5 linked regions of the Homo sapiens genome follow. The protein of the gene in region 4 purifies or fractionates together with the protein of the main gene of each other region. This does not show direct contact. Each region holds a gene or a part of one and is shown on either strand. Other genes may lie near its edges.

What was found.
Region 1: the proteins of NQO2 (region 4) and ELMO2 fractionate together in Homo sapiens (co-fractionation; one large-scale study listed by BioGRID). This does not show direct contact.
Region 2: the proteins of NQO2 (region 4) and PPP2R3A purify together in Homo sapiens (co-immunoprecipitation; one large-scale study listed by IntAct). This does not show direct contact.
Region 3: the proteins of NQO2 (region 4) and PARS2 purify together in Homo sapiens (affinity purification with mass spectrometry; one large-scale study listed by BioGRID and IntAct). This does not show direct contact.
Region 5: the proteins of NQO2 (region 4) and CRAT fractionate together in Homo sapiens (co-fractionation; one large-scale study listed by BioGRID). This does not show direct contact.

Annotation. Positions count from the first base shown.
Region 1 is NC_000020.11:46,371,504-46,376,104, reverse strand, and holds part of ELMO2 (engulfment and cell motility protein 2), read left to right. Parts: intron 1-314; coding exon 315-437; intron 438-734; coding exon 735-869; intron 870-1,464; coding exon 1,465-1,569; intron 1,570-1,664; coding exon 1,665-1,773; intron 1,774-2,569; coding exon 2,570-2,706; intron 2,707-4,135; coding exon 4,136-4,299; intron 4,300-4,413; coding exon 4,414-4,526; intron 4,527-4,601. UniProt on the Homo sapiens protein: Involved in cytoskeletal rearrangements required for phagocytosis of apoptotic cells and cell motility. Acts in association with DOCK1 and CRK. Was initially proposed to be required in complex with DOCK1 to activate Rac Rho small GTPases.
Region 2 is NC_000003.12:135,964,166-135,969,213, reverse strand, and holds the start of PPP2R3A (serine/threonine-protein phosphatase 2A regulatory subunit B'' subunit alpha), read right to left. Parts: upstream 3,487-5,048; 5' UTR 3,365-3,486; intron 3,217-3,364; exon of another isoform or gene 2,586-3,216; intron 1-2,585. UniProt on the Homo sapiens protein: The B regulatory subunit might modulate substrate selectivity and catalytic activity, and might also direct the localization of the catalytic enzyme to a particular subcellular compartment.
Region 3 is NC_000001.11:54,758,961-54,761,523, forward strand, and holds part of PARS2 (probable proline--tRNA ligase, mitochondrial precursor), read right to left. Parts: intron 231-2,563; 5' UTR 202-230; coding exon 1-201. UniProt on the Homo sapiens protein: Mitochondrial aminoacyl-tRNA synthetase that catalyzes the specific attachment of the proline amino acid (aa) to the homologous transfer RNA (tRNA), further participating in protein synthesis.
Region 4 is NC_000006.12:3,012,859-3,017,459, reverse strand, and holds part of NQO2 (ribosyldihydronicotinamide dehydrogenase [quinone]), read right to left. Parts: intron 1,931-4,601; coding exon 1,817-1,930; intron 577-1,816; coding exon 475-576; intron 1-474. UniProt on the Homo sapiens protein: The enzyme apparently serves as a quinone reductase in connection with conjugation reactions of hydroquinones involved in detoxification pathways as well as in biosynthetic processes such as the vitamin K-dependent gamma-carboxylation of glutamate residues in prothrombin synthesis.
Region 5 is NC_000009.12:129,097,066-129,101,416, forward strand, and holds part of CRAT (carnitine O-acetyltransferase), read right to left. Parts: intron 3,625-4,351; coding exon 3,446-3,624; intron 2,902-3,445; coding exon 2,801-2,901; intron 1,586-2,800; coding exon 1,466-1,585; intron 1,307-1,465; coding exon 1,184-1,306; intron 1,084-1,183; coding exon 948-1,083; intron 248-947; coding exon 185-247; intron 1-184. UniProt on the Homo sapiens protein: Catalyzes the reversible transfer of acyl groups from carnitine to coenzyme A (CoA) and regulates the acyl-CoA/CoA ratio. Also plays a crucial role in the transport of fatty acids for beta-oxidation.

The sequences.
Region 1 (4,601 bases), on a different chromosome or scaffold from region 4:
GTTCTGTATCATAGCCTTGATGGAGTAGCCTCCCCCATTTCTGGTGTGGTTGGGTATAGCCCCTGCCTTCACTCTGCTTCCCCTGCCCAGGGGAATGCAGAGGAAGGGATGGCGCCTTTCAGGCCTGCAGTGAGTCATCTCTGCCTGAACCAAGCCCATTCATGCTCCATCGCCTTCTAGAATATGAAGTCCTCGTGTGTGGGAGGAAAGCTCTGTTCCCTTCCCAACATACATTCCTTTTCCTTAGCATGGATGTGGCCCTTCATTAAAAGAGATCAGTTCAGTCCCCTGCTCCCTGCCTGTGCTTTTTCTAGCATGTGATCCGAGGGAACCGCCCCATCAAAACTGAGATGGCCCATCAGCTATATGTCCTTCAAGTCCTAACCTTTAACCTTCTGGAAGAAAGGATGATGACCAAGATGGACCCCAATGACCAGGTAGGTGCTAAGTGGGGCAGCTGTTTTCTCATGGCTGTGGTGCAGTCCAGCCTTAGTCTATGTGCCAGGCACTGTGCTTGGTCTTTGTCTGCAGAAGTAGTTTGCATCTGCCCTAGAAAATCTAGCATGATCTGCACCATGAGCCAAGCCCATTTCTGTCCTGCTGTGGTAGAGGTGATGCCTCCTAAGGGATTGATTGGGGCCAAAGTTTGGCCCAGAAAAGCCTGACCCACTGTTTCTTTTCCTTGCTCCCTTGGTTAGCCGATTCACCTGCTGACTGTCTGTTTCACCTCGCAGGCTCAAAGGGACATCATATTTGAACTGAGGAGGATTGCATTTGACGCAGAGTCTGATCCTAGCAATGCCCCTGGGAGTGGGACCGAAAAACGCAAAGCCATGTACACAAAGGACTACAAAATGCTGGGATTTACCGTAAGTACCTCAGAGCATAGACGGTGGTAGGCCCTCTCCCCTGATGGGAAGTCAATGGTCCCACCCAGACAGAGCTCTGACAACCAACCCCATGGTGGCCCTGGAATAGATGACAGTTAGGAAGCTGGTGGAGCTTTAATGCTTGCTTTGCTTTGTTGATGGTGAGTCTGTGAGTTTATGTGCAAAGTTTGGCCCTGTGAAACGAATCCATCTGTAGGGGGGTTGCGGTCAGCTAGAGTGGGTAGAGAGGGGACCTGTCCTCTTACCCAAACTGCTAGGTTCTTTGCAAAGCTAGTGTGAATATTTTGTGATAGAGTAGGGCTTGAGGATGGGGTTAACTGGAAGAAGTATTTCTTGCGTACCTACTCAGTGTGCAGCAGCATGTGAAGTAGGTTCTGGGATGCATGGTGAGGCAGCCACCGTCCAGCACTCAAGAGCTCACAGTTCAGTGGTGGTGATGGGTGTGAAAAGAGCTAGGACAGAGGTGGGTGCTGAGTGGTAGCAGCATCAAGAGGAGAGGCGAGAGGGCATCCCCTCAGGTCCCTGCATACACGGAGACTGCCGCATCTCAAATTGGGTGTCTTTATTTCTCTAGAACCACATCAATCCAGCCATGGACTTTACCCAGACTCCTCCTGGAATGCTGGCCTTGGACAACATGCTGTACTTGGCTAAAGTCCACCAGGACACCTACATCCGGGTAAAGGCAGGGGAGCTGGCCTTCTCAGTCCTGGTGCCACATCTCCTGCCTTCCTCCTTCATCTCCCTAATCCTCCCTTTCTCTTCCCCCGACAGATTGTCTTGGAGAACAGTAGCCGGGAAGACAAACATGAATGCCCCTTTGGCCGCAGTGCCATTGAGCTCACCAAAATGCTCTGTGAAATCCTGCAGGTTGGGGAACTACGTAAGTCTCTGCAGCTCCCTCTTCTTCAGCCATTCCTTGTCATCAAGAGCTCAGTGAGACTCAAAATTATAAACAGTTACATGTCAGTGGGGTCGGGCGTGGTGGTTCACACCTGTAATCTCAGCACTTTGGGAGACTGAGGCAGGAGGATCACTTGAGCCCAGGAGTCCAAAACCAGTCTGGGCAACATAGTGAGACCCCATCTCTAAAAAAAAAAAAAAAAAAAAAAAAAACCAAAAATTAGCCAACTGGTAGTGCATGCCTCTGGTCCCAACTACTCAGGAAGCTGAGGCAGGAGGATCACTGTGTCAGGAGGTCAAGGCTATGGTGAGCATAGTCATGCCACTGCATTCCAGCCTGGGCGACAGAGTGAGACTCTATCTTAAAAAAAAAAAAAAAAAAAAGATGTCAGTGGGACTAGACAACCTTAGGTGGGTTTTTAATTTTGTTTTTTGTTTTAAATCACTGCATCAGCTGATAATTCCATCTTATCCTTATTTATGGGAATCATGGTTGTTGCTTTGTTTGAACTGGCAATTTGAATCATATTCCAAAGCTACCCCATGCCTGTGGGTAAGGGCTGGCTGAGTCTGTAACAGGGTAGAGGGAAGGCAAGAAAATGCACCCTGGAGAAGAAAGCTAAGGACGTGAGAAACGCCCATCCCACGCTCCCTGTTAATTGCGCGCCTTAGGCTGCTTTTGTTCCTCGGGACTTTGGTGCAAAGTTTCCAGACATGAGCTCCCAGGCCCTTGTGGACAGAGGCTTCATCTTCTCCCTGTTTTTTCACTTCCACAGCAAATGAAGGACGCAATGACTACCACCCGATGTTCTTTACCCATGACCGAGCCTTTGAAGAGCTCTTTGGAATCTGCATCCAGCTGTTGAACAAGACCTGGAAGGAGATGAGGGCAACAGCAGAGGACTTCAACAAGGTCAGTGTCTCCGGGCTGCTCTGAGGCCCACGGGAGGAGACCATCACACGACAGCCTTTGACAGCTGGCTGGCACCTGGAGAATCCCTGAGCTGGAAAAGCAGCTTGGTCTGCAGAACTGAGTCACAAGACTGAGGCACTGGGGAGCCTCAGCCCCATCTGGTTGTTGCTCCCTCTGTGACCTTGAGCTTGTCTTCCACTTGGTGCCGTAGGCCCTCATTTGTCCATTGAAGTTAGCACCTGTCCCTCCCGTCCTCCAGAGAGGTCAGGAGGATAAGCATTAGAAGACTCACTGTGGTTTATTGAGTGCTTACTGTGCAGGTACTGCTGTAGTTTTGTGAACTGGGAAGGTTAGGAGAGAAGAGTGGACTGGCATGATGTGCACACCCTGGGTACTTAATCGATAGTTATCCCTCGGTGCTTTCAGTCCTCACTCTATGCAGAGCACTGTTGTGCCAGGCCCTCAAAAGCTGATCATCTAGGGGTCGAGTGTTTTGAAGTTGATCATCTCATCATAAAAAATTTGGAAAGTATAAAGAATAAAAAGTTACCTGTATTTACACCATCCAGTGACAAACATTTTTGTTTTCCTCTAGTCTTTTTTATCCCCTACAGGTTTTTCCTTCATTAGCAAGATCATACTGCGCATGCAGTGTGGTATCCTGTTGTTTTCTTTAATAGTTGTTTTAAGGGGACCAATGCATTTTTTTAAAACACCACAGCGTGCCAGAACTGCGCTTGCCTTTCTATTCTTTTGTTTGTTTTTTTGAGACAGAGTTTCACTCTTGTCACCCAGGCTGGAGTGCAGTGGCACTGTCTCGGCTCACTGCAACCTCCACCTCCGAGGTTGAAGTGATCCTTCTACTTCAGCCTCCTGAGTAGCTGGGACTACAGGCGTGAGCCACCACACCTGGCTAATTTTTGTATTTTTAGTAGAGACGGGGTTTCACCATGTTGGCCAGGCTGGTCTCAAACTCCTGACCTCAGGTGATCCGCCTGCCTCAGCCTCCCAAAGCATGAGCTACTGCAACCGGCTGGTATCTCATATTCTTTATGGCAACACCTATCAGGAGATGTGTCTTCCTTTCTCTCGGTTTAGAGATGAGTAGATGCACACCTAAGGATGTTAAGTGACTTGCTGAAGGGACAGAGTCAAGATGTGAACCCATTTCTTTCTGACTACAAAAATCCATGCTCATTTCCCCCACACCATTGACCAATTGAAATATATGGGAAATAAAGCATCTATCAGTGTCAGTCATGTGACCTGAATAACCATCTAAGAAGGTATACCTTACTCACCCAGCAGATGTCTGTAGTGCCTGCCCTGCTCAAGACCCTGGGGCAGGAAAGAGCCTTGGTGCTCCATAATAGGCCTGTCCATTTCTCAAGAGTAGTGGTGTGAGTTGGCTGGGTTCTTCTCCTCTTAGGTTATGCAAGTCGTCCGAGAGCAAATCACTCGAGCTTTGCCCTCCAAACCCAACTCTTTGGATCAGTTCAAGAGCAAATTGCGTAGCCTGAGTTACTCTGAGATTCTACGACTGCGCCAGTCTGAGAGGATGAGTCAGGATGACTTCCAGTCCCCGCCAATTGTGTAAGTTCCATCTCAGGGGAGGCTGGCGGGGGAGGTGGCTGCCAGCTCTGCTTTCCTTCCAGAGCTCCACTGTCCCCATGACCTTCCGCTCACTCCAGTGTGTGTCCACCCCAGGGAGCTGAGGGAGAAGATCCAGCCCGAGATCCTTGAGCTGATCAAGCAGCAGCGCCTGAACCGGCTCTGTGAGGGCAGCAGCTTCCGAAAGATTGGGAACCGCCGAAGGCAAGGTGAGAGGAGACGGGGCAATCCTTGGTGCCGGGAAGAGCCTGCCTGGATGGCCCCTTTTGTGCCCAGGCCTTTCC
Region 2 (5,048 bases), on a different chromosome or scaffold from region 4:
CACTCAATCTTGTTTCCTTCCAAAGCATTCTAATATGACCAGAATATTTTATAATCACAAATAATTACAAATATATACACATATACACGCATTACATAAATATATACTTATGTAAATATATGTGTTTGTGTGTTTATTTCACCCAACAATTCCATTTCTAGGAATTTACCCTATAAATATATTTATTCACATATGAAACAGCATATTCGTAGCACTGTTTACGGTAAATTACTGGAAACAATCTAAATGTCTGTCAGTGGGGGAATGGTTAAATAATCTATGGTATATCCATACAGTGAAATACTGTACAGTCATTCAAAAAAATAAGGAAACTATATACTGAAGTGGAAAGATTCCCAAGACATTTTTAAGAAAACAGAGTGTACAGTATGCTACCATTTGTGTAAAACAGTAAGAGGAAAGATATGCATTTCCTTGAATGCCCACAAAAAATGTCTACAATGATATACAAAACTAGTATCAGTGGTTATTCCTTTGGAAGACAGGGAAAATGGTAGCTGGGGGAGGGAGCAGAACCCACCAAAAATGCTCTGATTTGCTTGGAGGAGGGCCCAGGCGTCGGTCTTAAGTTCTGGTGGTTCTGATGAGAGTGTTGGACTGAGAACCACTGCTTAGTGGACAGCCTTTGCCTATTTTCCTAGCTTCATTTTGTGTCATCACTCTCCGTGTTCCTGGCTTCTGGGTTCCCAAAAGCGGCCCTGTTCCTTTCTTCCTCAAGGTATTCACATCTGTTCCTTCTGCCCGGAATATTGTTCCCGTGAGCTTCACCTAGTAACTCCTGTTAATCCTTCACCGTCCACCTCAAAGGTCACTTCCCCATGGAAACTTTCCCCAGTTTCCAAACTACATCAGGACATCTGTTTTATGCACTCAGAGCTGCCTGTACTTCTCCCAGAAATTAACACAATCGTAATGAGATAAATGTATATTTATGCATGTATACATCTGTCACCCTCCTTAGACTATAAGGTCCAGGCATGCAAAGTTGTTTTTACTAATCTATTTCCATACCTAATCTAGTGTCCAGTTGGCAAAACAGGCCTTCAGAAATCTGTTAAATAAATAACTGTTCCCGCCCTCAAGCTTAGTATAGTAAACACCTAAGCAAATGAGGACAATGCTGCGTCACTAGTGTTAAGGCAGCAGTCTGCTCACAACAGTGGTTCTTAACTAAGGGTGATTTTGGTCCTCCTGGGGGACATTTGCGATGTCTGTAAGCATTTTTGATGTTCACAACTGTGTGTGTGGAGTGCTACTGGTATCTATTCCTCAGTAAAGGTTAGAAATGCTGCTAAACATCCTACGCTGCACATGATAGCCCTCCACAACTAGAAATTACCTGGCCTAAAATGTCAACAGAACTACAAATGAGAAACTCTGACTCAGAGGACGATAACACTCAAAAGAGCTGTCAATTGCACTTCTGAGGGTGGTGATTTTTAAATATCTGTTTTCTTTTTGGGGGATGGGGGGTGTCAAGCAAAGCTTCAGGGCAGAGGTGAAGCTTCAGCTGTGTGTTTGAAAGGTAACAGGGGCCAGATCAGTGGGGACTATGTTTGTCAGGAGCAAGGAGGAGTCTCTGAAGAGTTTAAAAGCAAAGTTATGATTTGAACAGGTGCCCCCAAGTACCCTATACTCCAAAATTATTCATTTCCTTTTTTCCTTTCTCGCTGAAACAAAACTTCCATTCTCTCAGAGTAGCTGGTTTCAGCTGAACATTAAGGCCAAATTAATTCAGCCCAAGATAAAGTCAGATAGGCCCTTCACTCTCCAGAATGTTAAGCTACATTTTAAAATATGCAAATACTTATGAGTACAAATAAATCTTTAACTGCTCAATGTTCAGGTTGTCAGTGCATAAAGCTATTTTTGAACTCAACAGCCAGATTGGCCCCAGTAACACTTTCCCAAAGCTTTGTTTTTTAAAAACCTTTTTGATCTGTTTCCCCGTTCTCCTAGAAATCTCCTAGATTTCTGAGCTCCTAGATTGTATAAAAGATCTAAGTTTTTTTCCACAAGTATCTCATGCCATTAAGTTCTTCTGCCAGAGGTGATAAAAGGGCCATTTGGATGCAATAAATGTAAATAAATTGTGTGTGTAAATTAGCAGTGGCTTAGAAAATTTTTAAAAGGCTTTCATGGACTACTGAAAGAAACTGAGATAATTTTTAACATACCACCAAGAAAAAAAAACAACAGTTTTACTACAACACAAGCCGGCTGCCTACTGAACTGGACGCCCATGCTCTGACCTAGTATGGCAATTCTTAGGGTCTAGGCGCTGGGTTCTGTTTACAAGAAACTAAGGCCTGAGACTAAGGAAGAACAAAGAAAAATGCCTGGCACCAAAGGTGTGGGGGATGTTTTGTACATAAATGAAGATTTGAGGAGGAATACTTCCTCAGATGTTGGAAGGAATTACTCTTTTTTTGCTTACGTGTTAAGAATTTAATGTTTTCAGGCCATTTCCTAATTAGAAAATACCTTATAATTTACAAACAATAATTTGTCTTCCCCTACATTTGCTGACCACCAAGACTGGATAAAATTTCCTTAAGCTTTACCAGAGTGGGAGGACTGGGAATAACGGGAGCACAACAGAGTTCGGATGCAACATCAACTCCAAGCCCGGCCAGCTGGTTTCCATCGAGAGGTCCCCCAGGAGAACGCCCCTCCGCGGCGGCGGCGGCCAGGTCGGCGCGGGAGAGACCCACCGAGGCGCTCCAGCGCGGCCGCGGTGCAGGACCAGGGGCCGCCCGGCCTCCGTTTACCTTTGTTTCAGGTACCCCGGCTCCTGGCGGGCCGGGAATCCCGTCCGCGGCCCGGAGCTGGTGACACATCCTTCTTTGGCCAAGTCGGGCCGAGGTTGGGCAGGGGGCGGGGAAGGAAAAGAAAGCCTCAGCGCCTAACGACGTGACTCTCAGTTCTTCCAAAACGCTGGCATTTGTTTCTCTGCCAGGCTTTCCTGTTAACAAGTTCCCGAGGGCTGTGCGGGCGAACTGGCCCAGGAGCCCTGAAAAGTGGGAGGGCCCAGGCCGCCCCCGCCTACCCTCCTCCGCGGGCGCCCCTGGGGCAGGCAATTTCCACACCTCCCTGGTGCCGTGTCCCGGGACCGGCCGGCCGCGCCGAGGCAACGCACCGCACCGCACCGCACCGACTGGAATTCCGACTTCCACAGCCCAATCAGCTCCGTGTGGCCCCTCTGGCCAGGCCGGTCCCCGCCCCCAGGTCCCGGCCCCGCCCGCCCCGGCCTCCGCGCGCCGCCCCGAGCCTCGCCACCCCCTCGGGCCGGGACGAGGGAGCTGAAGGCTCCAGGCCGTGCGGCCAGTGTTCCTTTGCCTACCTCGTTGCCCGCGGCTCCTCCTCCGGCGGCTCAGCTCGCGGGCAGCGCTTGCCTCCAAGCCTCCCCGCGGCGCGGACTCTCGGGCTACGAATGCGGCGCGTGAAGAGCGGAGGCCCGAGCGCGCCCCGCCCAGCCACCCGCAGGCCCCTACCTCCTTCTCCTCCTCCTCCTCCTCCTCCTCGGCCCCACCCTCGGCGGCCGGCCCGCCCGGAGCCCCGCCCACGCGCCAGGCCCCGCCCACTCTCCGGCCCCGCCCCCAGCCTACGCCCCGCCCCTCTGGCCAAGGCAGGAAGGGGGCCTCCAGGGGCGCCGCGAGAGCCGCTGTGGCCTCGGCGAGGGCAGTCTCCTGTATGGCGGCGCCGCGGGGATGCGATTCGTGGTGGTCGCTGCTGTTTGACAGATTCGAGTCTCTTGCTCGGATTTATTACTGTTATTGTCATCGTCAATATTGTCATCGTTGTTATTGTTATCGTCATTAGTTGTGTTGCCCTCTTCAAGGGGCCTTCAAGGAGGCCCCTTGAGGGCAGCGCGCTGCTGGCCAGACATTCCCTGGCGCTCCTGTCTTCCCACAGTCCTGCACCTGCGCCACATTTCACTCAGCCCAAGAAGTTGTGTGAATTTTAAAAGAAGTGATACTTATTTTTAACTGTTATTGTTAACTGTTACTGTTAAATAAAACACAAATATAGACAGCCATATAAAACCAATGTACAGCTTAATGGATTATTCCGATACACACACCCTTATAACCACTCGCCAGATTTATTAATAACACCGTGTAATATGGTCTGCTCTGAAACAGAACCTCATTAATAGCTGGAAGGACATAGCCTGGAAGGGCCTCCCAAAATTGCCCTCCTTCTAACTGCCACAGTACTCAAATGTGACAGGTCCATAATCATGCCCTCTCCAAGAATATATTTGTAAAATGGAAATTTCTCCAGAATTAGGAACCTCCAATTGAGTATCTTCGTAAAAATCTTGATAAAATGATAAATCTATAAATATATAAGCATATAAATAACAATAAATAAGTCAATCAGTTGGGTTGAATACCATGAGTAAGGAGCATGGGGGTGGGGGATGGGAGGTATGTAAAGACTTAAAAGGATTAGGTGGGCTGTGAGGACAGGTCCTGGGCACCTGGGTTGTTCTCACTGTCTCCCCAGCACCTAGCATAGCACCAAGCATATACTAGGTGCCATATGTGTGTGTGTATATATGTGCATTGTACATATATGCACATATATGTGTGTGTGTGTGTATAGCACAAGGAAAGAAAAAATTATGTAAGATAACCCCAAACAAGCTTTACATACTGAAATTTCACCCAAGGTCAATCCTCCCAGTAGCTAAAGTGTGCTCTGTGAGATGCCTTGATGCCCTAGAGAGAAAGAGACCATTTTACTTTCAACTTTCTACTGCTTTTCCATTTCAAAAGCCCTTTCACATGCATATGGTATCTTATTTGAGACTGAGAGCAACTCTGTGAAAAATGCAGGGCAGGATAGGACTCTGCAAAGGTCACAGTGCAATGCATATCAGTAAGAAGGAAAAGTACACAATGTACCATAAAACAATGTTAAAACTGCTGACCCTGGCAACCTGGATTCTTGGTTTGTCTCAACAGTTTTATTGCCAATGTTTTTACATTAGGGCTCCTTTGGCCCTTTTGCCATGCATT
Region 3 (2,563 bases), on a different chromosome or scaffold from region 4:
GGTCAGGTCATCAGATTTGTCCTGCAGGGAGAGCACCCGGTCTTCCCGAAGGTTCTGTGGCTGGAACACACGAGACAGCAGCAGGCGCCGCCCTCTTCTTGGGGCACAGTGGTGAAACCTGCAAGGAACATACCCAGAGAGCTGGCGGCTGCAGGTGGCCAGGGCGGGCAATGCTCTGCATCTTGTCAGCAGCCCTTCCATGACACCCTGGCACCGGGAAGCACAGGCACCTGAGGAAAAATGAGTTGTGTGAGAATGAGCCTCATCCGTGTTCCAACACCATGAAGCAGCCAACCCAGCCTGCTCTCAACAAACTTCGAAGGCAGCCACTGATTTTGCAGATACAAATCCTTCCATTTCTAATATCCTAGCAGATCAAAGCACTATTTCTCTAACCTCTTACTTCCGTTTTTGAAAAATCAATATTTTCCTGATTATAAAAACATTAACAACATCCTGTGGAGAGACAGCGTCATGTAGTGAGTGCACAGGCTCTGGAATCAGGCAGCCTGGATTCCAGTCAGGCCTCCCAATGGCTGCACCCTGTGTAGCTGGGGACATGTGTCTTAACCCCTCTGTGCTGTTTCTTCATCTGTAAAATGGTAATAACAACAGAACCTACCTTCTAGGCTTATTGTGGACACTTAGAAGAGTTATAAAAGTTCTTGGAACAGTATCTGGCATGTACTATGAGCTCAACTAATGTCTGCTATTATTATTATAGAAAACTAGGGGGGAAATCTGAAAACAAAAAAGAAAAGAAGGCTGGGCATGGTGGCTTATGTCTGTGATTCCAGCATTTTGGGAGGCCAAGATGGGCAGATCACCTGAGGTCAGGAGTTTGAGACCAGCCTGACCAACATGGCGAAACCCTGTCTCTACTAAAAACACAAAAATTAGCTGGGCATGGTGACACGCCTGTAATCCCAGCTACTTGGGAGGCTGAGGCAGGAGAATCACTTGAACCTGGGAGGTGGAGGTTGCAGTGAGCTGAGACTACGCCACTGCATTCCAGCCTGGGTAACACAGTGAGACTCTGTCTCAAAGAAAAAAAAAAAGGAAAAGAAAATCAACTGTAATCCCTCAGCCTGGAGTCAACTGCAGCTGACGTTTTGTTGCCATCTGTCTCTTGCAAACCCTGTCCTTTGCACATCCCTCTCTTGTTCCTCTACCTGCCCCCAATATTTAAATGTCATGGGCCTCTTCCCTCTTTACAGCACACACTCCCTGGACAGCCTGCATGCTGAGAGCTGACTCAAAATCTCCACCTGCCTCCTGGAGAATACATCAGGTAGGTACTTCAAAACTCTGTGTCCCAGAATGAACTCAGCATTCTCCCCGCAAACCTACTCCCCCTCCAGCACTGCCTGTCATTGTGAATAGCACCAAAAGTTGCACTTTGCCCAAACCAGAATGTGGGGTTCGCCTGCTCTGCTCCTCTCTGTGTCCCACGTTCACAGCCCTCTTGGCCCTGTCATTCCTACCTCTTCACTTGCTGTTCAATCTGTCCCTCTTCTCTCTACAGCCTCCGCCCAGGTCCAGGCCACCCTCATCTCTCACCTGGATGGTTGCAACAGCCTCCCCACTGGTCTCCTGACTTCCACTCCTGCCCTCCTTCAATCCATTCTCTATACTGCAGCCACAGGGGAGACTTCCCAAGCACAGATGCTAACAGCTTTTCTTGGTTATAACGGCCTCCTGCTACCCTTAGAATAAGGTCTAAGCTTCTGACTTTCAGGGTGTGCACAGCCCCACATAAGCTGACCCCCTTGGGCCTCATCTCACCACTGCCCCCTCTCTGATCAGGCTTTGCCACGCCCACTCTTTTTTTTTTTTGAGACGGAGTCTCGCTCTGTCACCCAGGCTGGAATGTAGTGGCGCGATCTGGGCTCACTGCAAGCTCTGCCTCCCGGGTTCACGCCATTCTCCTGCCTCAGCCTCCCGAGTAACTGGGACTACAGGCACCCGCCACCATGCCCGCTAATTTTTTTGTATCTTTAGTAGAGACGGGGTTTCACCGTGTTAGCCAGGATGGTCTCGACCTCCTGACCTCGTGATCCAACTGCCTCGGCCTCCCAAAGTGCTGGGATTACAGGTGTGAGCCACTGCGCCCGGCCCCATGCCCATTCTTAAACATACTGTCCCTTTTGCACAGAACACCCCTCTCCCCTTTTCCTGCCAACATCTAGCCGTCCTCTAGGCCTCAGGATTACCATCCTCTCCCCAGGAAGCCTTTCTTGTCCCACTCCCCATACCCCCAAAGGGCTGGCTTTTCCCGCATAGCCCACTTGTCTCCTAGGGTTCCTGCCCATTTGGCTGTCTGTCTTCTCCCTGACACTTGGCTCAGTGCAAGCAAGGACCTGTCTAGCTTGCTCACCACTGTATCTTCAGCACATGACAGGGGCTTACTAGACATTGTCCAATAGGCAAGTATGTTTCTCTGATTTTACAAAATAATCACACATTTCTAATGGCAGTACGACATTCCACTGATTACATCAAAAATCAGTAGTTGGTTTTCTCTGTTATACATAATCTACAATGAAGAGAAGGCTTTTTTTGT
Region 4 (4,601 bases):
CAGAGACCAGCATGCGGCCATCAGAATGCAGGGCCTGGGGTGCCACTTGCCAGGGTCCAAGGGCAGTGCTGCCCTCACCAAGCACTGCCAGAGCCATATGGATGGCCTCCACCCGCACGTATCACAACACACGCAGGGCCACCTTGGGGCCATTCTGCTGACCAAGCTAAGCAGGTTTGGCTTAGCTTCTGCCCAAACCATATCAAAAGCTATAATTAGGGCATGTTTTCCCTATTGGTCAAGCTTTTCAAATCTGTCAAGTAAAGCATTTAAAAGGGGCAAAATGTTATAATTTTCTTGTATCCAGGGGAGTCAAAATGGTGTGGGGCATCACGCTTCCATCCCATCTCATCTCACCCCTCGGGGAGCTGAGGGCATGTATGTGTGTGCGTGTGTGTGTGTATGCATGTGTGCATGTGTGTGTCTGTGTGTGCGTGTGCCAACAAGCAAGGGAGCCACTCGCAGCTGGTCTACCTGGAGTGGCCACAGGAAGTATCGAGAATCTCCATTGACTCCTGTCTTCGTGTACATCTCGGCCGTGCCTCCCGTGGTTACGGAAAGGAGCGCTAGTTTACCCTGCAAGGGAGAAAGCAGATGCATTTGTGTGGACTCCAGAAGAGGACAGAAATGTTGCTGAGCCTCCAGCACACGGGCTCAGCACAGCCAGCAGGGAACATGCGTGTGGACACCCTCCAGGGATGGACAAATGCAACACTCCCATCCATAGGTGACAATGACATCCCAAGAGGAGGAGGAGACAATCCAAGTGAATGGACCAAGCAGACACAGAAGCTCTAACATGCCCAGGTTGCTGGTGGAAACCTGGTTTCCATGACACCATGTGTGATGGATACGGCCGAGGCACTGACCACAGGACAAGGTTCCCAGCACACAGGGCTGCTCAGTAAGTGGTAGCACCATTCATGGTCCAAGACACATCTTGGTTACTCAGTATGTTTCCCTTACGTGCATTTATTTTCTGAAGCTTTTAGAATTTAAAAATCGTTCCTTTTTTTTTTTTTTTTTTTTGAGACAGAGTCTCGCTTTGTCACCCAGGCTGGAATGCAATGGTGCGATTTTGGCTCACTGCAACCTCCACCTCCCAGGTTCAAACCAGTCTCCTGCCTCGGCCTCCCAAGTAGCTGGGACTACAGGCGCCTACCACCATGCCCGGCTAATTTTTGTATTTTTAGTAGAGATGGGGTTTCACCATGTCGGCCAGGCTGGTCTTGAACTCCTGGCCTCAAGTGATCCACCCTCCTCGGCCTCCCAAATTGCTGGGATTACAGGCGTGAGCCACTGCACCCAGCCTTAAAAATCATTGTTTTAGTAAGAATTCATAGCTACCACATGTGGCACATCTACCAGATTCCATGCCCTCCTCATCCTGCCACGTGGGTGTCGCATGGTCTTTTCTCACAGCAGGCACATGATGCTCAAGGGGGTGAACTTGTGCCAGGCCAGGGCTGGGCTCTGCACCAGGGAGATACTCTCTCTGGAGCCAGGGCTGGCCACCGGGTTGCCCACATAAGGTTGCCCAGGTCCCCCGTCACCTGACACCTGACCCACTCCCTTGTTTGCCATGCGTGTAGTATGCTGTGGATGTGTTCGCAGCCCCACCAGACAAAAAGCTCCATGATTTCAGAAACGATGCTGTGTCCACCCGTGTGCAGCACATGGTGCTTTGTACATAGTGGGTGCTCAATCGATATTTGCTAAGAAAAGGAAGGAAACTAGAAATATAACTTGATAGAAGACGCATCCTCTGTCCCCTCCCTCCAACTATCCATAGTGATCCTTATCCAAGAGCACATACCTGGAGCAAACCGGAATCGTAGAATCCTGGGATGTCAAAGGCAAAGCCCTGGCACAGCACCCTATCCATCCAGCCCTTCAGGATGGCTGGCACGCTGAACCAGTACAGCGGGAACTGTGGGCGGCAACACCAAAGAGAAACTGAGGCTGCGGCTCGCCTCAGGTTTCCTAGTTTAGTTTATCTGGTGATTCGGAATGAAGCCCACAGCCCTCCTCTTCCCTGGCAGCTGGGCAGGTGAGGGTAACCCTTATGGTCAGCTCTGAAAGGTGCAGTGTGGGTGTCAGACGGGAACGGAGTTGACAATGGTCCTTGTTGCTGTTACAGGTAGCTCTGCATCCCCCAGTGATGACAGCCCCTGATGCTGGCCCTGGGCAGGCAGGGAGGGGACGAGGAGCTGTGCGTAACACCAGCTTTGGAGCAGCAGTCTGTGATCAAGCCAGTCAAAAGGAAGAGTATGGAAAAGCATGCCCCTTCGCCTGCCTGGGGTGTGTTGTTAGCATCTGGAAGTCAGACTGAGTTCGGTGCTGAGCATCTATGGATTTAGACACCAACTAAAGTCATGTTTGTATTCCTTAGACCAGCGCTAAGATCTCCCTATCCCATAGATGCCCTAACATTACATCCAGTGTTACCGCCTGGGAAGGGAAATAAACATAGGCAATCATCTGTTACCAAAGGTGGAAGCCAATGTCTCTTGTGCTTTCCATATAAAACAAACTCAGGACTTGGCATTGAAACCCAAGCTCCACGACCTGCTGCTGTGTGACATTGGCAAGTTACTTGACCTCCCTGTGCCTCCTTTTTCCTGATTCATCAAATAGGGCTACTAATAGTTCACAGCTCACAGCATCCTGGTGAGGATTCGAAGACACACCACAGTGCCCAAAACAGAATCAATGCTCAGTGAGTGGTGGGCTCTGATATTAGTAGTGCAGTAGTGATGAATGAAATTTTTATTAATGTTGAATAAAAGAATAACTTATAATGCAGACCCTCTGGACAAACTATCAGAAAAAAAGGGAAAGTAGGGAAATGGAGTGAAATGAAGTGAAACAAAAGAAAGGCCATTATAGAAAGGCCAGGTCTTAGCCTACCCAGCCACCGGGTTATGGGAGTGGAGTGGGTGCGAGGAGGAAAGCGGGCTCCACGTGGCCGGCCGACCCAAGGGGGACAGGAGAAGCAGAGCAGAGAGCTCAGCGTGGCTCTGCTGGGACCACGCACCCCAGGATACAGGCCCGTCATACTGGCATGGTATTAAGACGGAGATGGTAAACCACATGGTCACCTAGGCCTGAGGACTATGAGTCCACCCACCTGTAATTAGGACAAAGGACGTCCTGCACTTTGGTCAGATTAGCAGCTCAAGGTCACTGAGTAAAGAAAGGGCTGGTGTCGGGAAGGGGTGTGCAGAGGCAAGCCTGGGCAGGGATGAGGCAGCCCTCTTCCCGCACATGCAGGTTGCTTTTATGAAGGCTTGGGAACCTCATCATTCTGGAAAGGTGGTTTTGTCTGGAAAGTGGTCACATGCCGCTCACCCCCTGCCTTGCCCTCACATGGCGGACTCATGCGAACAGTGCTCTCGTTCTCCTGCCCACTCCGCATCCTCAAGCAGGGTTGGAAAACAGAAATGATCTGAACCAATCAGATCCCTTGGTTGGAAATTCTGGATCTAGGGGATCCAGTCCCTGGCAAGCAGTGAGAGAGAACAGAGCCAAGAGGCAGAAAGGAGCAGATGGGAATCTGTGGACGAGAGCAGCTACAGCTCTGTCCTTGGGATCCAGGAGGCCCAAGTGACCAGAGCCCTTATAATAGATTCCCCTTTCCTTCTAGTTGGACAGGAATTTCTGTCACCCAACAATTCCCTCAAAGCTCATGTGCGTACTCTGCTGCCAGGTTTACACAGCCACAGCCATGCCTGCACATCTTCCTTGCAGTGGCGGGAAGTGGCCTGATGAGTCAGCACTCCTGGAGGGCATTTTGCTGGGCCAGTTCACTCTGCAGTGGCATCACCTCCTTGTGAACAAATACAGGAAGGTGGCTGGGCTGGGGGTGAAGCAACCACTGAGAGGGTAGAAACCAGAGATTTTCCTCTTAATGATCAGGATATTTAAGGCAGGATATTTAAGGAGATGCATTTGGCCTGATTTACCCTGATAAACATTTGTGCAGATAAATGTGGTTCTCAAGCAGCCCCAGAATGTCTCAGGGCAGGAACGGGAAGAGAAGGGAAGCAACAAGACTGGCAGGTTTCAGATGATTCTTGGACCACTGGAATAATGGAAATATCCTTCATTCCTATTTACATGGCAGTCGGGATTTGGAGTGAGTGATATTGGCTACGTGGATATCTTTACCCAATTAGGTAAAGTGTTTAAAGTAGTGTTACATCGGCCGGGCGCGGTGGCTCACGCCTGTAATCCCAGCACTTTGGGAGGCCGAGGCGGGTGGATCACGAGGTCAGGAGATCGAGACCATCCTGGCTAACACGGTGAAACCCGGTCTCTACTAAAAATACAAAAAACTAGCCGGGCGTGGTGGCGGGCGCCTGTAGTCCCAGCTACTCGGGAGGCTGAGGCGGGAGAATGGCGTGAACCCGGGAGGCGGAGCTTGCAGTGAGCCGAGATCCCGCCACTGCACTCCAGCCTGGGCGACAGAGCGAGACTCCGTCTCAAAAAAAAAAAAAAAAAAAAAAAAAAAGTAGTGTTACATCTACGTACAGTGTTTAAAGTAGTGTTGTAACTAGATGAAGTGTTGTAACTAGGTGAAGTGTTGTAACTAGGTGAAG
Region 5 (4,351 bases), on a different chromosome or scaffold from region 4:
TCAAAAAAAAAAAAAAAGAAAAAGTTGGGGGCTATTCAGCCTGGCTCCAGGTGCTCCCAGGTTGGGGGAGATGTGGTCCTAGCAAAGGGTTGGCAGCCATTGGCTGCAGGGACGGACAGTCAGAGGGACAGACAGATGGCTGACACTAAGGGACAAGTGAGTAGGCACAAGCGGGCTCACTTACCCGGTCGGTGTAGCCTCGGTGGGCCTGCACGGCCTTCCGCAGCAGCTCCACCTTCTGGTGCTCCTAGAGTGGTGAGGGTCAGAGGGAGCTGAAGCACTGTCCCTTCTCTTCTGGCCCACCTCAGTAGCCCACCCCCACCCAGCACTAGATTCTGAGCTCTTTAAGAGGAAATATTGGGGCTGGGAGCGGTGGCTCACGCCTGTAATCCCAGCACTTTGGGAGGCCGAGGCAGGTGGATCCCTTGAGGTCAGGAGTTTGAGACCAGCCTGGCCAACATGGTGAAATCCCGTTTCTACTAAAAATACAAAAATTAGCCGGGCATGGTGGCAGGCACCTGTAGTCCCAGCTACTTGGGAGGCTGAGGCAGGAGGATTGCTTGAACCCGGGAGGTGGAGGTTGCAGTGAGTCGAGATCACACCACTGCACTCCAGCCTGGGCAACAGAGTGAGACTCTTTCTAAAAAAAAACAAGAAAAAAAAAGAGCGAGTATTGCAACTACCAACTCCTTGGTCCTCAGCCAGGGCCTGACATAGGGCAGTTGCTTACTGCCAATGAATAAATGAATGAACAAATGAATGACTCCCTTTTCCTCTTTGGTCCCCAGGAAGCTCAGAGCTAGATTCACGGCTCCAGCTTCTGTTAGATTCCCCGTGCCCACCATGGGGCTGGAATCCTGTAGGTGCTCAATTATTGTGTGTTGACTGAGTGAGCAGGAGGGAGGGGCTCAGGCCCAGCTCACCCACCCTCGCCCCAGACCTCTCACCGTGACGCTGGAGTCATCCATGGCCTTGACAAAGGTGAGTGAGTCCATGGAAGCCGAGCGGATGGTGTCGGTGCGGCCCAGGTGAAACATGCGCAGGGAGGCACTTTCATAGGTGGCACATGCCTGTCCGTAGATCCTGGTGGGAAATGGGGCTAAGCACGCCCCTTGGAGGCGGGCACCCCCTCCCCTGCCCCCAGGTCTCCTCCCTCCTCCATGGGTGGGCCACAGAGGCGCACCTGTAGTAGGCCAGCTGCAAAGCCATCTGGATGAAGGCATCTGGGCTTAGCTTCTCCGACTTGGGGAAGTCTTTTCCAAAATGGTGGAACACCATCACGGTGATATCCAGGTCCTGGATCATGCTGGGGGTGTGGGAAGAGCAGGTGAGGAGCAGGCCCCGGCAGCCCCTGCCAACCCCACGGAGGGTCTGGGTGTCATGACAGAGCTGGCACAGGAGCCTCTCAAGCTCAAGGGCCTGGCCTCACCCATCCAGCACAGGGATGGCGGGGGCAGGCACTTACATGCTGAGGTTCTGCTTGGCCTTCTCGATGTCGCTCTTGATCTCGGGGGTGATGTTGAACCGCAGCTTCTTGGGCATGGGCAGGGGCACCAGGGGAGACCGCACAAGCTCGGGTTTCTTCCTGCACAGTAAACGGGGCCTCAGGCTCATGCTGGTGCCTCTAGAGCCTGGGTCCATTCTGGGACCAGGGTGGGGAGGATGGGTACCTGAAGCTGGAGGGGGCCAGCCCAGGGAGGTGTGAGTTTGTTCTGAAAACCACCCTCACTTCAGCTTTTTTTTCTTTTTTCTTTTTTTTTTTTTTTTAGATGGAGTCTTGCTCTGTTGCCCAGGCTGGAGTGCAGTGATGTGATCTCAGCTCACTGCAACCTTGGCCTCCCTGGTTCAAGCGATTCTCCTGCCTCAGCCTCCTGAGTAGCTGGGATTACAGATGCCCGCCACCTTGGCTAATTTTTTTCTTTTTCTTTTGAGACAGAGTCTTGCTCTGTCACCCAGGCTGGAGCAATGGAACGATCTCGGCTCACTGCAACCTCCACCTCCTGGGTTCAAGTGATTCTTGTGCCTTAGCCTCTTGAGTAGCTGGGATTACAGGCACCCACCACCACGCGTGGCTAACTTTTTTTTTTTTTTTTTTGAAACAGAGTCTCATTCTGTCACCCAGGCTAGAGTGCAATGGTGTGATCTCAGCTCACTGCAACCTCTGCCTCCCGGGTTCAAGCGATTCTCCTGCCTCAGCCTCCCAAGTAGCTGGGATTACAGGCACCCGCCATCATGCCTGGCTAATTTTTGTAGAGACAGGGTTTCACCATGTTGGCCAGGCTGGTCTTGAACTCCTGACCTCAGGTGATCCGCCTCCCAAAGTGCTGGGATTATAGGCATGAGCCACTGCACCTGGCCTAATTTTTTTTTTTTTTTTTTGAGACAGAGTCTTGCTCTGTCACCCAGGCTGGAGTGCAGTGGCACAGTCTCCGCTCAACGCAACCTCTGCCTCCTGGGTTCAAGCAATTCTCCTGCCTCAGCCTCCTGAGTAACTGGGATTATAGGCATGTGATACCACACCTGGGTAATTTTTTTTTTTTTTGTATTTTTAGTAGAGATGGCATTTCACCATGTTGGCCAGGCTGATCTCAAACTCCTGACCTCAATTGATCCTCCCACCTCAGCCTCCCAAAGTGTCAGGATTACAGGCGTGAGCCACCATATCTGGCTGGCTTCCTTGGAAAAAAACAGATTCCCAGGCACAAAGGAGAGTGATATTTCTCTATAAGCTGGTCTATCACCTGTGTGTCACCTGTCACTAGAAGCTGGGGAACTAGGCGAGAGATGTGACTGTACTCACGTGTACTCGATGACATAGTCCAGAAGGGTGACAATAGGGGGCCCCTCCGCTGCAGCATGCTCGTACACAAGCCCACAGGAGCCATCTTCTGCCACGATGAACTGTGGAAGGGAAGGGAGACCCCGGTCAGCCCCAGGGCCCTGGGGGGTGGCCCCTCACCCAACCACTCTTTGGTTGAGGCAAGGGCCTCTCTGAAGCCATCTCAAGGGGCTATGATGACTTATTACTGTTATTAACAATAGCTGACACTCACCAGGTGCCCTGGTGTGCTAAGCACATCCCACGCTCAGCGTGCCTGACTGAGTCCTTCAAACTACTCTACCGGTGAGGTTGACCATCACCCCATTTTACAGGTGTGGAGAGGGACTGTTGTGCCAGGATTGCACTGGTGACCCCGGATCCCAGGTTCTCTGTGAGGTGCTGAGGGGGTGTGCTGGGGGTGACAGCGGTTTCCAGGCCAGAGGCAGGACTGGTGATGACAGGCTGGCTGCCTGGTAATTACGGCAGCGTCCAGCCTGCTGGCTTCCTGCCTGCTTTACAAGCTAGGAGGCTGGGGACGCAGGGCCGGGGACGGGCAGGAAGTCCCGAGGCTGCAGAGGTCCTGTTCAGGTGTGTGTGAGTGGGCGAAGCCCTGCCGGGCCTCACCTGCAGCGTCTTGTCGAACCAGCGGTTGCCGCTGTTGAGCCTGCTGCCGCCCCCATGCAGCATCTGGCCTGCCACGTGGCTGCGGTACACGTCTTCTGAGACCCTGGGCATGGTTGCATCTAGGCACACGGTGAAGATGCTCTTCTGGATGGAGCGCACGGAATCCCGGTTCACCTTGTCTGCAGGTGGCATGGGGCGGGGAGACGCAAAATGGGGTCTCATGGTGTGGGAGAGATGGACCAGCCCCTCCGCAGCCTCCTGCCCTGGGCTCTTCTGACCCATTTGTACCTCTCTGGGATGAGGAGACCCCCCACCTCGCCGGCCCTCCAGGGCATTCACCAAGTGCAGGGTGTGGGTTCAGAGCTTCGAACTCAACAGGACCCTGCAGGCCCACAGCACTCCTCGAGGCAGGGCCCAACACCTGGCCCACTTTAGACACAGGAAACCGAAGCCCAGGGGTCACATGGGAGCTGGTGTGGCAGCCGGGGAACCCACACAGGTGGTCTGACTTTGGGGTCAATGCCCCTGAGCAAGACATGCTTTGGAGGACTGCTGGTACTTGGGGGCACAGGGGGTGTGGAGGCGGGTGGGCTTCTCAGCCAGAGGACTTGGACTCTAATCCTAACTTGCTATTTAGCTGAGAGAAACTACCCTAACCATGAGGTGTCCTCAACTAGGACATGGGGCCCACATTGCCTGCTCCACGTTGAGAGGATGCAGCGGGAAACATGTCTGCCCATGGCTGTGCGGGGCCCAGCATGCCGGGGGAATGTTGGGAAAAGGACTTGTGGGGTGCCTGTATAAACTGGCCATAAAAATAGGGGACAATAAGTTGTGGAAAGCCAGAAGAGGCCACGGAGGAGGAAAGCCTACTAATTGCCATCATGTTCCCATGCTCAGAGCGAG